Linked DNA regions of Homo sapiens: region 2 is linked to region 1. Evidence: fine-mapped expression QTL. Tissue or cell type: monocytes. Region 1 holds a variant in brackets; the other region holds the start of a gene. All regions are shown on one strand. Distances are between the middles of the regions.

The links. PIP is the estimated chance that this variant, and not a neighbour inherited with it, causes the effect.
Region 2: it holds the start of ARHGEF2, and the variant in region 1 is fine-mapped to the expression of ARHGEF2 in monocytes (Kim-Hellmuth 2017, PIP 0.95).

What each region holds. Positions count from the first base shown.
Region 1 is chr1:155,923,764-155,931,763 of GRCh38, forward strand. It overlaps KHDC4 (KH domain containing 4, pre-mRNA splicing factor), which reads right to left. Exons shown (of 14, transcript NM_014949.4): 3 at 5,949-6,077; 4 at 5,533-5,612; 5 at 3,341-3,393; 6 at 2,913-3,076; 7 at 1,869-2,080. It also overlaps SCARNA4. Among named protein-coding and RNA genes, the nearest start is that of KHDC4, 6.6 kb to the right of the region's middle. The variant CACACACACACACAA/C (reference allele first, on the strand shown) is at 4,098.
Region 2 is chr1:155,975,397-155,983,396 of GRCh38, forward strand. It overlaps ARHGEF2 (Rho/Rac guanine nucleotide exchange factor 2), which reads right to left and starts at 3,151. Exons shown (of 22, transcript NM_001162383.2): 1 at 2,969-3,151. The coding sequence starts at 3,031. It overlaps ARHGEF2-AS2 (ARHGEF2 antisense RNA 2), which reads left to right and starts at 3,243. Exons shown (of 3, transcript NR_183460.1): 1 at 3,243-3,298; 2 at 3,924-4,059; 3 at 5,471-7,592. RefSeq lists enhancers at 526-785, 928-1,429, 1,546-1,625, 3,756-3,825, 4,287-4,908 and 2 more and silencers at 3,146-3,305, 3,366-3,415.

The DNA of each region.
Region 1 (8,000 bases):
CTATTTTACATATCTACATTAATACATTCACTGTAGCTCAAATCTAGGCCTCTGAAAATCACAAAACAGAAACACAAAACATAAGTCTTTTAAGATATAACCACTATCATTACCACAAATATTTTATTAGTCTTTCTCTGAGTAATGGTACTTCTCGATATAAAAATGTTTAAAGTTCATAAAATTACTATAAAACGTATTAATATTGACATAGGTTTAAATGAAAATTATTTCAGACTTATCACAGCTCACTTTAAGATTTGCTTTTTTTTGGCCGGGCGTGGTGGTTCACGCCTGTAATCCCAGCACTTTGGGAGACCGAGACAGGCGGATCACGAGGTCAGGAGATCGAGACCATCCTGGCTAACACGGTGAAACCCCATCTCTACTAAAAATACAAAAAATTAGCCGGGCATGTTGGCGGGTGCCTATAGTCCCAGCTACTTGGGACGCTGAGGCAGGAGGCGACAGAATCTTGCTCTGTTGCCCAGGCTGGAGTGCAGTGGCGCGATCTCAGCTCACTGCAAGCTCCACCTCCTGGGTTCACGTCATTCTCCTGCCTCAGCCCCCGAGTTGCTGGCACTACAGGCGCCTGCCACCATGCCTGGCTAATTTTTTTGTTTTATTTTTAGTAGAAACGGGATTTCACTGTATTAGCCAGGATGGTCTCAATCTCCTGACCTGATTCATCCGCCTCGGCCCTGAAAGTGCTGGGATTACAGGCCAAGATTCACTTTTGTACAGACTTGTACAAAACCAAAGGACTTGAATACTAAAGAGATAATTCCGTCTCCTAATTCAATAATTTCTCTTTTTTTTTTTTTTTTTGAGATGGAGTCTTGCTCTGTTGCCCAGGCTGGAGTGCAATGGAGCAGTCTCAGCTCACTGCAACCTCCGCCTCCAGGGTTCAAGCAATTCTCCTACCTCAGCCTGCTGAATAGCTGGGATTATAGGTGCCTGCCACCACACCTGGCTAATTTTTATACTTTTAGGAGAGTCAGGGTTTCACCATGTTGGCCAGGGTAGTCTCGAACTCCTGACCTCAAGTGATCCGCCTGCCTCGGCCTCCCAAAGTGCTGGGATTACAGGTGTGAGCCACCGCACCTGGTTTTTTTTTTAAGACAGGGTCTCACTCAGTCACCCAGTCTGGAGTGCAGTGGTGCAAACACAGCTACCTGCAGCCTTAATCTCCTGGGCTCAAGCCATCCTCCTGCCTCAGCCTACTGAGCAGCTGGGATTAAGGTGTACACCATAACACCTGGCTAATTTTTTTTTTTTTTTGAGATGGAGTCTCGCTCTGTCACCCAGGCTGGAGTGCAGTGGCGCAATCTCAGCTCACTGCAAGCTCCACCTCCCGGGTTCACGCCATTCTCCTGCCTCAGCCTCCTGAGTAGCTGGGACTACAGGCGCCTGCCACCACACCCGGCTAATTTTTTTTGTTTTATTTTTAGTAGAGACGGGGTTTCACCTTGTTAGCCAGGATGGTCTCGATCTCCTGACCTCGTGATCCACCCGCCTCGGCCTCCCAAAGTGCTGGGATTACAGGTGTGAGCCACCGTGCCCGCCTAATTTTTAAAATTTTTTTGGAGAGATGGGGTTTTGCTATGTTGCCCAGGCTGGCCTCAAACTCCTGGGCTCAAGTGGTCCTACGCCTTGGCCTCCAGAAGTGTTGGGATTACAGGCATGAGCCACCGTGCCCCAATTCTACAATTTCTTTAACTAATTATAAAGTAATTACTCCTAGCATTTATCTAAATCCCTCATTACTATTAATTACACCCAGTTTTCTCTTGCTCCTTCTGAATCACTCCTGACTGTACCAACAAGTTGACAAGAATTCACATGTCCCCTGCCCTATCCATCCATACCTGATGTAAATATACATAGGTTCAAAAGCTTCTCGGCCAGATGCTGGCTCAATGCAGCCTGAACCTTTGCCCCGCAGGAAGACTTTGGCACCTGTTTCAATCTGAATGTGCTGCAAATAGGAGCAGCCTGGACCTTCCACCTTCTCCTTGACATTAAAAGTGGGTACAGCATGTTCTAGACCCACAAATAATTTATCTTGAACATAATGCATCTGTAGGAAGAACAGAATACTTCAGATTAAACAGAATATATAATTAAATCCTCAATCTTTGAAATAAGTCAATAAGAAATTATAGCAAAGACAGTCTCCTGTAAAACTGGGGTAGAGTGTTGGGTAGTACAGTCAGCCCTGTGATACTCTTCAGTGAAGGCTGCTCTCTCCAACCCTTTTTTCTAGGAGGAATGTATCAGCAAAGTCTTACTTCATCAGACTCAGCCTTCTTAGTCCTCCAGTTGTCATCAAGTTTACAAATACAAATTAAAACCACTAACTTCAAAATGTACAACATGTATACCTTCTGCTCTATCAATCTCCTTTCTAGAATATATCAATATGAAGAAATGTGTGATCAGGTGTTCATTATACCGTGGAGAGCTGGATAACACACAAACAGAATACCTATGGCAGGTAACTTTCGGGATTGGAATTTGGAATTTCACGATTTTTTTTTCTTTGTATGTATTACTTGGCACTTTTTTTTTTTTTTTTTTTTTTGAGATGGAGTCTTGCTCTGTGGCCCAGGCTGGAGTGCAGTGGCATGGTCTCAGCTCCCTGCAACCTCCACCTCCCGGCTTCAAGCAATTCTCCTGCCTCAGCCTCCCAAGTAGCTGGGGTTACAGGTGCCTGCCACCATGCCCGGGTAATGTTCGTGACGGGGTTTCACCACGTTGGTCAGGCTGGTCCAAATTCCTGACCTCAAATGATCCACCCACCTTGGCCTCCCAAAGTGCTGGGATTACAGGAATGAGCCACTGTGCCTGGCCAGCACATATCATTTTTATAGAAATGATAATGCTATTAACGATCCCTCCCCAAAACATACCCCTGACTGGAAGGGAGGCTTCTGGCTAACAGCTGGAGACAACTGAGCGATGGGTGCTGGCTGGTGATAGACAGTTACTGTTGCACCATTAAAAGTTGGACTTGTTCCTGTGGCAGCTTTTACCACTCCATTGGTGATAATTTCTTTGATCCGGTTTACAGCTCCTTAGAAAAACACAGACAGTAAAACTGAATGGAATGAACTGACTAGTGCCCAGGCAGGCCAGTGTTCAATTATTCACCGTAAATCTGCTTTATACGTTACCCAAATATGTGGCTCTCCATCCCTCTAAACTCCCATACAAATTCGTGTATAGTTCATGAACAAGGGTTAGAACAGCCATCAGGGACACTTTGCCAACTTGCTATACAGAGCCCTGTACTTTGCTCTTCACAAAAAGTGCTACGTGAGCCAAAAACATTACTTACTGTCCACTAATTCCCGTGTCTGGCCCTGAACATGAAGATATAATGGACGATCCCTATAAAGAGAAACAAAAAAGGATGATCTCAATGTGGTCAAAACCAAAAAAGGAGTCAAATGGGTCACCAGATCTAATTTGTAATGTTTCAAGTTTCCAAATAACCAAAAGGGACTATATACATTAGAAGGGTTTTTGCTAGCTAATGTCTCAGAACATGCTTTAACAGCTGGGGAACAAATAAACTTCTTGATTTTAAAAGTCAACTGGCCCACAGAGTTCAGATCAAATCTGTTCTTATGGATTCACTACCATTATTTTCCAGTCTATTGAGATAACCCAATATTTAAGAACAGAATTCCTTTTTGCTGGTTGTCTAATAGGTTATAAACAAATGTGGTCTCGTCTATCCAAATCAATGGGGCAAGCTGGGTGCTGTGGCTCATGTCTGTAATCCCAGCACTTTGGGAGGCTGAGGTGGGTGGATGACATGAGGCCAAGAGTTTGAGACCAGCCTGGCCAACATGGCAAAACCCCATCTCTACTGAAATTACAAAAATTAGCCGGGCATGGTGGCACGCCTGTAGTCCCAGCTACTCAGGAGGCTGAGGCACAAGAATCACTTGAACCCAGGAGGTGGAGGTTGCAATGACCCAAGATCATGCCATTGCACACCAGCCGGGGCAACAGAACAAGACTCTGTCTCCAAAAAAAAAAAAAAAAAAAAAAAAAAAACCACACACACACACACACACACACACACA[CACACACACACACAA/C]AATTAATGGGGAAAGATTGATCATGCATATAGAGAAACCTCTTAAGGTCTACATCAACTGATAATTTAGATTCTAAATGTGAAGAGGACTTAAATTATAATAAAGTGATCAATAACCATATATAGTTAATAAAAAGTAGCAGGTAAAAATAACTTTTTAAAGACAAAGTTCAAAACAGCAATCAACACATATAGAAAGTTTAAATACATTCTTGGGGCTGGGCACGGTGGCTCATGCCTGTAATCCCAGCACTTTGGGAGGCCGAGGCAGGGGAACCACCCGAGGTCAGGACTTTTGAGACCAGCCTGTCCAACATCGTGAAACCCCATCTCTACTAAAAATACAAAATTTAGCCGGGTGTGGTGGCGCATGCTTGTAATCCCAGCTACTCGGGAGGGTGAGGCCAGAGAATTGCTTGAACCCAGGAGGCAGAGGTTGCAGTGAGCCGAGATGGCGCCATTGCACTCCAGCCTGGGCAACAAGAGCAAAAACTCCTTCTCTAATAAATAAATAAATAAATAAATTCTTGGCTTGGGGTAGGAATTAAATTTTGCCACCTTATTTTGTGTAGTTTAAGCTAATGTTAAAAATGTTGCATTCCCTAAGTACCTATCAACTGACAGTGAAGAGAAACTCAAACACGGAATGATGGAAGGAATAAAATGAAACAGATTAAGTCTTTACCTGAATAATCACAAACTATAACCATCATAAAGACAAAAAAAAAAAAAAAAAAAAAGAGCCCATTTGTGAGGGGAACTATTTCCACAGAAAAAAGTTAAGAAGTATATACAATGCCGGGCGTGGTGGCTCACGCCTGTAATCCCAGCACTTTGGGAGGCCGAGGGGGGTGGATCACAAGGTCAGGAGATCAAGACCATCCTGGCTAACACGGTGAAGCTCTGTCTCTACTAAAAATACAAAAAATTAGCCAGGCGTGGTGGCAGGTGCCTGTAGTCCCAGCTACTCGGGAGGCTGAGGTAGGAGAATGGCATGAACCCAGGAGGCAGAGTTTGAAGTGAGCCGAGATCACGCCACTGCACTATAGCCTGGGCGACAGAGCAAGACTCCATCTCAAAAAAAAAAAAAAAAAGTATATACATTATTTCTGCAGATCATATGGAACAGAAAGAAGAAAAAAGAGTATATACATTAAATGTTAGTGGTTAGTATCTTCTTTTACACTTTCCTATAATTTGTTTCCTCCAATAAAAACATTAAATGTGAAATAAAAGTCCAAAAACAGGTCCCAACATCTTGTATCTGTTTGATATCCAGAATTCTGCTATAGTGTGCACACACATACCCCTCAAACCTTGAATCAAATATTGTGTACACGTATTACCTAAGGATAAAAAACATGAGGCTAACGTGAGTCATACACCCAACCCTTCCATAAACAAGATAAGAGAATACGCACCCTGGTCCCACTTTGGCTTTTTCCTCAGTTGTCATGAACCTCCCTCGAGTTGATACTGCAGCCCCACTAAGTCGGCTGATCTAAAAAAGGAAATGTTCAATTAAAAAAATGTGGCAATTGGTTGATTTCAATGGCAGACAGATTTTCTTCCCATTCATTCATTCAACCAAGTAAAGAAGGAAAGAATTCTCTCCTGTATCTGAAATTTTGATTCCATGGTTTCTTACTCAAACCAACCCAGAGAATTCATTTATATCCATTCCATTATCTTCCTCTGAAGTTAAATTAAACCCAATCCTGACTTTAGAGACTATGACCCAAACCCACTAATAAATATCTGACGCCTGTCTATTTAGAGGTCTTCTTTATCTGAATCCACTCACCGCCCTCCCCAAAGAGTCTCAATGCCTCCTCACCTCGTCTTGAGTCTGTCCTCGAGTCAGCAAGTTCCTACATGTGAGAGGCACATCATTAATTTCTACTTCAGCTACCACCAGGTCATCCTTGCTTTTATTGCTAGTTAGGCCTTTGCCAGGAGCCTGAAGCTAGAAAAAAGAGAAATTAGATTAAAAAGTTTTTATGATGAGATAAAGTCTATTTTTTTATTTTATTTATTTACTTATTTATTTTTTCATTTTTTTGAGATGGAGTCTGTCGCCCAGGATGGAGTGCAGTGGCGTGATCTCAGCTCACTGCAACTTCCGCCTCCTGGGTTCAAGCAATTCTCCTGCCTCAGCCTCCTGAGTAGCTGGGATTACAGGTGTGCAGCACCATGCCCAGCTAATTTTCGGATTTTTAGTAGAGACGGGGTTTCACCGTGTTGGCCAGGCTGGTCTCGAACTCCTGACCTCAGGTGATCCACCTACCTCGGCCTCCCAAAGTGCTGGGATTACAGGCGTGAGCCACTGTGCCCAGCTGAGATAAAGCCTTTTAGTCATCCAATGTACAACTATCCTTTCCCAAGTCCCACACCTCCCTACCCTTCCCTTCATCTGCCTGTAAACACAGTTGGTCATTCTTCATAAACGAATTAACAAGCAAACAAAAATCTCACTAAAATGACATTAAATAAAGTCAATAATAAAGTCAATCTGCTTGAAGGCCACAATCAAGATTTCTCTGTGACCTTGGCCCTATGTGCATTTTTATGACCACCTAATTACAGAAGCTCTAGGGACTAGAAGCTACAACCTTCAAAAAGAAAATTAAAGGGCCAAGTTATGATACTCTATAGCTCAGTTAGTTGGCTGTACATGGAGTAAAACACAATAGAAGGTAGAGGAGCAATGCCTACAATACATATACCTCATGCATACAATAGGAAGTTGTCTTTGTGCCACTCCTATAATCCTAACATAAAATCCAACTAACTCCATCCTTGTAAAGCTCTCAAAAACCCTTAAATTGTATCTAACTAATAATTCCTCACTCTATTACAGCAGAACAAAGAAGAATGAAAAAACAGTAAGATGGTAAAACCTGATCCGGTTTCTTTCAATTTAAACTACATGGAGTTTGTGATCAGCCTGGTCAACATGGTGAAACCCCGTCTCTAGTAAACATACAAAATTAGCCAGGTGTGGTGGTTCGTGCCTGTAATCCCAGCTACTCCGGAGGCTCAGGCAGAATTGCTTGAAGCCGGGAGGCAGAGGTTGCAATGAGCCGAGATCACGCCATCGCACTCCAGCCTGGGCAACAAGAGCAAAACTCTGTCTCAAAAATAAATATATAAATTACAAAAAAAGGCTGGGACCGGTGGCTCACATCTGTAATCCTAGCACTTTAGGAGGCTGAGGAGGGTGGATCGCTTGAGCCCAAGAGTTTCAGACCAGCCTGGGTAACATGGCAAAACCACATCTCTAAAAAAATACAAAACATTAGCTGGGCACGGTGGCATGAGACTGTAGTCTCAGCTACTCAGCAGGCTGAGGCAGCAGAAAGCAGTGATTGTGCCACTGAACTCCAGCCTGGGCAACAAAGCAAGACTCTATCACCAAAAAAAAAAAAAAAAAAGACAGAAAGACAGAAAGAAAGAAAGAAAGAATGAACGAAGGAACCAAACAGGCTCATGCCTGTAATCCCAGCACTTTGGGAGGCTGAAGCAGGGTGGGCAACATGGCAAACCCATCTCTTCAAAAAATAAAAAAAATTAGCCGGGCATGGTGGCATGCGTCTGTAGTCGCAGCTACTTGGGAGGCTGAGCCTGGGAGGAAGAGACTGTGCCACTGCACAGTCACTGCCTGGGCAATCAAGCCAGACCCTGGAACCACAGGCATGCACCACACCTAGCTAATTGTTTTTGTATTTTCTGTAGAGACAGGGTTTCACCATGTTGCCCAGGCTGTTCTTGAACTCCTGGCCTCAAGTGATCCACCCACCCGCTTTAACCTCCTGAGTAGCTGGGACTACAGGGGCCTATCTCCCCAACCTATGTCTAGAAAATCTGCTCAAGAAGGTAACATACTGTT
Region 2 (8,000 bases), 52 kb after region 1:
TCTCTAGGCCCCATCTAACCTCCTGCAAGTCACTCAGTGACTTCCCTAAGCTTTAGACTCCCTTCCCCTATCCTCACTTCTCCCCTCCCCCTCAACTCTCTCCCTAACCTCCACGACCCCTAGAATTTTTGTCTATGTCCCCAGAAGCCTCAGCCACCAGGAGGACCCCCCATTCTTCCACTCTCCTCCAACACCGTCAGCCCTCTCAGCTCCCTCCTGGGCTCCCCCAGCTCTCCTCTCCACTGCACTCCTAGTCCTGCACACAAAGCCAGCCACCTCTCCATTCCTCAGAACAAAGAAATAGTCGCTCTGCACACTCCCCACTCCACCTGCCCACCACAGAGATTCCAAGGGGACCCCCAGCCTCCACAGCCATCCCTGGACCTCTGGTCCCTGCTTGGCAGAAAAGGACCCTTTGTTCTAAGGGATATGATGGTTGGGGTTTGGGAAAGGAGAAAGGGAAGAACAGGGGACTAAAGAGAGAAAGGGGACCTGTGAGGTTTGGGGCTTGTGGAGGTAGGAAGTAGAGCAGAGAGAACAGAGGAGGTGGAGGACTGAAGACAGCCTGGGAGAACAGAAATGGAGTGAAAAGAAAAAGGAAGCATGGAGGGGGCTACACAGAGAGATCCTGTGAGGATGGGACAGAGAAAGGGGCAGGTTAAACTTACATTCCTCCTCCTAGGAGGAGCTCCCAGGGAATGAGGCAAGGAATGGGGAGGGGCTGAGGTGTCAGGGCTTAGCTGTGACCCATCCCCCCAAGGAGGTAGCAGGGGACACCATCTTCTTCAAATAATGTCTTTTCCAGCGGGTGCCCCTCTACTTCCCACCACAGTATAAAAAGAAAGGAGACAGCTGGTGTGCTGGGGGGAGGGGGAGAGGGGATCCAGGGTTTGTTGGCTAAGAACCAACTCCCCCTTCTGTAACCACAGTTTTCCGGAGGTGGCCCTCCCCTTCCGACCGGCCCAAACTGACAACCACCCTTCTCCGGTGGCCTCTTTGCCCTCTCAGATCCACCCACTCAGCCCCCGACTCCCTGCTGCCAGCCAGATTCCCAAATTACCTGCCCCACACAGCCAGCCCCCATAGTAGAAAGAAGAGCCAGTCCCCCCACCACCAAAAACAAAAACAAAAACAGAGCATGAACACCCAGATGTCTGACGTCCCAGCTCCCCACAATAATGGAAAAGGGATCCCAGTAGCTACCTGCCCCCACAGAACCGCTCTCTATACCCCCTAGCCAGGTCTTCCCCCAACCAGCTCCCCCATGGCTTTCCTTTTTAGGGTGGAACCAAATTTCTGCGGTTTCAAAAAACCTCCCCCGCCCCCCTTGGCTCTACTCCAGGGTCTCAGCTCAAACGGTTGAAAAAATAAACAGACTTTTGGAGCTGGGGCCTGGGCTGGCGCAGGCTGTGAAGAGCCTGTCTGCCACCCCACTGTTCCACCACACTTCAGCCACCTCACCCCGGCCCTCTGTTTGTCTTAGGCCCTACTCGAATCCCCAGTTGCTTTCCAGATAGCAAAATCTAATCCCAACCCCCTAAGGAAAGTCCTTTTAAAGCTGCTTTCCCTGGCCCTCCACCCCCAACCCAGGATGGAACCTCTGTCTCTCCCAGTTTAGCATCAAGACAGGTAGCCTGGCTAGGAACTACCAGGGAGGTGGAGGGGAGGGCTTTCCATCACCCTTAAGGACTCCTAAGGGGTACTGCTCCCTTGGCTGAAGTTGGTGATCAGCATAGGCTGGCACCAGGGTAGTAGGGCACTCAGGTTGGAGAGAAGCCAGAGATTAAACCAACTCTGGGCTGGGACCTGTCCTTTCTGATAATGGGTACAGTGCGGGGGCCCCAAAGGAGCTGGGAGGTGCTGTCTGCAGGCACCACCTTCCTTTCAGCTCTGACTTATTCACCTGCAAGTCAGCTTCATCATTTCCTGGGGTCTGGGTGTGGAAAGGTCAGGGCACTTGGGAATGGGGCTGGGTACAAAGGCAGGGATAAAGGGTACTTGGAGAGGAGTGGCCAAGAGGTCATGATGGGGGAGGCGTGTGGATAATTATACACCCAGACTCATGAAATGCTAGGTGAAGGGACCCCAAGACGAGCAGATAAGAGAATGAGAGCGCTGGGGGAGGAGGAGGAAGGGCAGGGAACACAATGCATAGTGCCAGGTGTGTCAGCCTAAGGGTTTCAGGTTGGGAGAAGGAAGAGCTAGGAGGCTGGCGGGGCAGATAGGGATGGAGGCCCTATGTTCCAGGCAGAAGGGCTCAGGATGGAGGAAAGGAGCCCAGCTACACAAAGACCTCTGCTCCCTTCACCTAGAGGTGATGGTTTGGGGGAAGTAAGCCGTCCCTCGGCCGTCCCGACCCCAGCCACCCGCCCACCCAGAGGGGAGAACTGAATCACAGCTGGAAAGTCCATTTGCGAGGAGAGGAGGAGCTGACTTTTGTCTTGGAGGGGTGGTGGTGGTGGTGGGAGGAAGCCGGGAAACCACCCCCTCCCGTCCCCTCCGCCGGATGGCGGGGACAAAGGGGGAACGACCAAGCCAGCGATTGGGGAGTGATGGGGGGTCGCCACGCCAAGCCCAAGCCGGTGGGGCCCGGGGTGAGAGGAGGTGCCGGAGCTTCCACCGCCCCCACCCGCGAGACACACACCTCCCTCTTCCCGCTCCGTCCCTTACCGGAGCAACTTTCTTTCAAGCGGCCTAAAGCACTCGGTCCCGCCGGCTTGGAGGCGACCAAGCCCAGGTCCGCTCCGCTCCCTCCCGGGATCCCAGCACCGTCGCGTCTGCCGCTCCCCCCACCCCTACCCACTCGCTCGCAGTCCCCACCCACCCCGTCCCGCCGCTCGCCGATCCACCGCTCCGCCCGATTTTGGCGCCCAGAAAGCAGGCGGGGAGACAGGAGATGCACCGCGGGTGCCGGGGTTCGGGGAGCACCCGAGGACCGCGGCGAAAGGAGAGGGGTTTCCGAGCCCACCTTGCTCGCCAGCTCTCTGCTCCGGTCGATCCGCGCCCGCGTGAGGGATTCGATCCGAGACATAATCGGACGGGGGGACCAGGGAGGACGCGGCGCGGACCCCGGCGTCCTGTATTGTTGGGGGAAGGCGGGGGGAGGGGTTCGGCCCGCACGCGTTGGTCTCGGGGACAGGAAGTCTGACTCCCCTCGCCCGGCACCCAGCACCAGTTCCTCAAACCCGAGTCTCCTCCCCCGCCCAAGCTCAGGAAGGGGGTAGGCGGAGCGGAGGGAGGGCGGGGTGCCCGCGCGCAGGACGGGACGCCAGGGTTTGTGTGGGGGCAGCTCGGAGAGGTACGAGGGTCCTAGGACAGGTTTGAGAGGCCCCTCTGCCTATTTCCCCTCCAGCGCCTGGGGGCGCCCTCTAGCCCCAGAGACCCGCCTCTTAGCTCTTCTTTTCCTAAAACCCAGCCCCGCAGCCCTCGCCGGACCCAGGTTGGCCCTTTCCCCTCTGCCCTCCCCTTCTTCCCTTCTCCCCTCGCCCTCCCTTTTTCCCTCCCCTACTGCGTTACCTCAGTCTTTAAAGACCCGCAGGCAGGAGAATTCCATCCGCCCCCAGCTCTTAGAAAACCCAGGACCAGTTCCTTCCTGGCCTTCGGGGTCCCATCAAAGCAGGCCTGAGCAGACTGACCCCTTTTACGATTGGGGGCAGGGGTGGCCAGAGGGAGAGGAAATCAAAGGAGAACTAAACGCTGGATCTTCAGTACACGGGAAGGGTAGGATTCACTCCCAGAGGTCGAAGAACAGAGAGGAGAGAATTCTCCCACATGCCCCACCCTTCTGGGGCCTTCCTGACCCCACTCTGCCCTCCTCCTAGCTCCGCCTCTGCCAGCTACTTTGGGGGACTAGGTTGGGATTCTCCACTTTTACCGAAGGCCTTCCATGTGTCTAACTGCAGTTCTCTCTGTTGCAAGTTAAGCCGGAACTGAAAGACCAGAAACCAGCCTGCCCTAGTCAAAGAAAGTTAGGGCCCAACCAGCCTCTCCCCAAGAAGCAGGGTAAGGTGGGGCATTCATCTCTCTGGACCCTTTTCCCCAGCCTGAGCCAGCCTTTGGGTGAGTTTCCTGCTATTGGGAAAATTCCTCCTCCAGTCTAACTATGATCACTTACAGTGAAGTTCATTTCTGCCTCTCAGGGTCTCCCATTTCTCTGGAGAAACCAGAAGCACAGAGAGGCCTGGGACAGAGCCTTCGGTTAGCAGGGTCCTGCCTGATTCTGGCCCCAAAGGGCGTGGGAGAAGAAGGGAGGGAGGGGAGACCCAACCCAGATCCAGCAGTTCTCTGCCCTGGCTCAGCAGTGGGGCCAGGCTGCAGGTTTCAAGCCCAACTCAGCACTCTTGTAGGTGCCAATTTTAGCCTCTGCCACTATTTTTGGGCTCCACTACCTCACCACTGGCTGAGCTGGTTGGGCTCCTCACCCCCAGCACTACCCCCACACTGCCCCTCCGGCTTCCCCTCCTTCCTAGCAACTCCTTCACCTCCTTCTTCACCCATTCCCCTGTTTAGAATCCTTAAATAGCAAAGACCAGGAAAAAGGAAGAGGAAATAAACCGTGCCCAGTTCAGGCTGGATGGACATTAGAAAGCAGGAAGGACTTCCCCAGGGCCACAGCTTGTTCTTCCTGGCTTGCACCTGCCAAGTATACCTACGGGGAGGGTGTAGGAACTCCCCCAAACCAAGAGGCCTGAGGCTCCTGGCCCCAGAACTCCAGACTCACCTCCCCTGAGGTGGGCAGCCAAGACTCAGGAATGTACTAAATTTAAAAACAGACAGCCAGAGGCTAGAATCTTGGCCTCAAGGTTCCACCCACTGGAGGCCCAGAGACAAGATCTGGGGTGGGACCTCAGCTTCTCTCCCAGGCCTGGGGCAGGAGGGTGCTGCAAGCTATGGATAGAATCTTAAAGGGCCACACTCCAGCCTGGGTACCCAGGAAACATAGAATTTGAACCCTGGGGTTTTTCAAGCGACCTCATGGTCCCTCAACTCAACTAAGAAGGTCTCTATGAAAGAAGAGGACCCGACCCTCCAACTCTTTTCTGTCTCCCACCCCAACCTTCAGTCTACTTTCCATCCCACCTGCTGTTACCCTACCCCTCACCCTATGCCCTCTTCTTCCCCTTAGGAGATGAATAACAAGGAAAGGGACTAGGGACAGGGAAAAGAAAAGTGTTCTGCCTTTAAAAACACCTGTGTTTAGTGAGCTTGGCCTGCAGCTTGACTCAGTTTCCGTTTTCTATATCCTCTTGAACAATGAACACTTTTCCCTTCTCCTTGGTGTCACCTGCCCCCCTTTTCCAAGACCCTTCTTCATTCCAGCGCCCCCTCTACTCCTATCCAGTGATATCTTCCAGATTTTCAGAAATAATTTTTTAGATACACAGAAACAAACATTTCTACCAGGATCTAAAAATAGCCATCACCTTCTTTAGCCCATTTAACTTGACGAAATGTGTCCCTCCCATTTCAGGGGTAGGGAGGAGGTCCCAGGGAAGAACCTGGTTGCCAAAGTCTCGGCCAGTTGGAGAAGAGATGGGTCTCCCGAGGATACCCAAGCCCAAGCTCTACACTGTCCCAAGGTGGTTTGTTTTTCTTCTTTCTTCTATTGGTCTGGACCTTGTATATTCTGGGAGGAGGTGATTAAGGCCAAATTGCCTTAAGTGGCCATCCAGCCAGAAGCTGGAAGAAGGGAAGGATGAGAGGGAATGAACTGTTGTGTTACGGCTATTGAGAGAAACAGTGGCAATACACAGCCAAAGCCCTGAGTTTCTAATACGGCGCCACCTCTTATGAGCTGTGAGATCTTGGGCAAAGTAACTAACCTTTAAGTATTTGTCTGTAGAATTGAGATTGAAATACTTATCTTTGCCAGAATTGTTATAAGAATTAAATGAGTTGAAAGTGTTTCATCAAGTGTGCAATGCTACTCAAGTAGGAGGGACTAAGCTACTTCCTTCTCTCACTGCTTGACTGAGCTTCTCTCCAGCCCCACCCCCTGATGTTTACTGCTTATGGAGAAAGAGATTAAGTGAAGCAGGCCCACACATTCATGAAGGTGGAAGGAAGATGTAGCAGGAGATGGTGGAGAGGGAAACAGAGGAAGACAGGATGACAGACGTGGGGAGGAAAGGCTGAGCGAGGCAATGTCCTGACTCACTCTGGCGCTTCCCTCTTTCCCATCTGGGCTCCAGAGTCTCTGCCCTCATTCCCCTTCACCAGGTTGCTCAACCCTCCATCAGACTGTTAGGTCAAGGGTGGACAAACAGACCAACCGGGATCTGGATGGCCCCTGGGCAGTACTGACTTCCCCTACCATTCCCATGGCAAGAAAAGGGAGTGATTCCACTAGCAGACTCCCCTACCCTGCAGTGAGACAGCCTGTAGGAAGGTGAGACTCAGACCCCAAGGTTTCTGCTTTTGCTTTGTTCCTTCGAGATCTCCATTCCCCCATGGGAGAGAAACCTCTCTGTCCCACCTGCCCTCCCCTCCCATCAGCTTTCAGATTCTCCAGCTGCTCCTCTTCTGAGACTCACCCAGTCTCATGCCTCCATTAGCCTCAACTCCCGACCCATGGCCTGTGGTGAGAGGTGCTAACAACATGACCTGCTTTCATCTTGACCTTCCCAGCCCACCCAGAGAAAAGGGAATCTTGGCTAAAAAAAGGCTGGAAGAGGGGAGAACCCTGGCACTGCGGGTGGGGCTGGGAGGAGCCCAGGCAACCTTACTGGTGAGAATCTCATGGCTCTTCAAGGTGAATATGATGATGATTTCCCTGGGGTTTCTTTCAATACTCAGAAGCCGCCCCGAGTTGGAAAGCACATGCATACTTGGGGAGGCCAGGGGAGGAAAAGGGGGGCGGCTCACTCTGACAGTAAATGAAGAAAGTGGAAACAAATTCAAGGAGCAGGCAGAGCTCCCGGTTTCACCAGAGCCCAACGGTTGGTAATAAGGATGAGAACAATGTGCCTTCACTTCCTGGGATCAGAACAGCACATGGCCGCACATGTACGGGTATGCATGTGCTTCCATAATCATATACTTTCCCAGCTTCTACTCTGCCTGTGGTCTAATTTCAACTCCTTCAGCTGCTGTACCCACCCATAAAATTATGAGTGTAAAAGCACTTTGCAAACCCTGATACTCTATGAAGAAGTAAAAAGTAGTGCTGTAATTATTATCATTATTATGTCCAATGGTTGAGGTTTCCGCTGCCCACCTGTCAGCTATGTGAGGCCTAAAGAGAGGGAGGGCTAGGCCATTCCTCAGCTTCTGAGGTTCCTGGCCCTTTTCCCCTTCCATCTGTCCACAGCTGACTGCTAAGCTGGATGCGTAGGGGAAAGCAGAGAAAAGGTGATTTACTGGGACACAGAGACACAGGCTGGAAGAGATAGCATGTGTTTCCTTAAAATTTGAAGCATTTGGCTGGGCACAGTGGCTCACACCTGTAATCCCTGCACTTTGGGAGGTAAAGGCAAGAGGATTTCCTGGGCCCAAGAGTTAGAGGCTGCAGTGAGCTATGATTGTGCCATTGTACTCCAGCCTGGGAGACAGAAACCCCCTCTCTTAAAAAAATAAAAAAATAAAAAATGGAACCATTGCTCTGAGTTTCTAATAGGGGGAGTGGTGGGAGGTGGCGATGGTGGGATGGGAGAAAGGGAACTGGAGAGGGCAGTGGGTCCCAAGCCTCCTGCTTCCCCAGCTGACTCCTACCTTGGCCTTTCCGGTCATGCCCGAGAGGAAGCTGAAGGTCTGTCGCAGGGAGGAGCCTACCCGGGTACCTGAATGTCCTTCCAGCTGGCTGCAGCTGCATAGAGAAAAAGAAGACATGAGGAGATGGAGGTAATGCTGGAAATGAAGAAAAAGATAACTTCCTGAGAGATGGTGGATGAAGGTGCCATGACCAGCAGAGCCAGAATGGGAAGGAAGAAAGAGGAAGGATTGGGAGAGAAAGATAAGCCCCCATCCTGACCTCCTAGGACTTCCTGGATGTGGGCATTTCA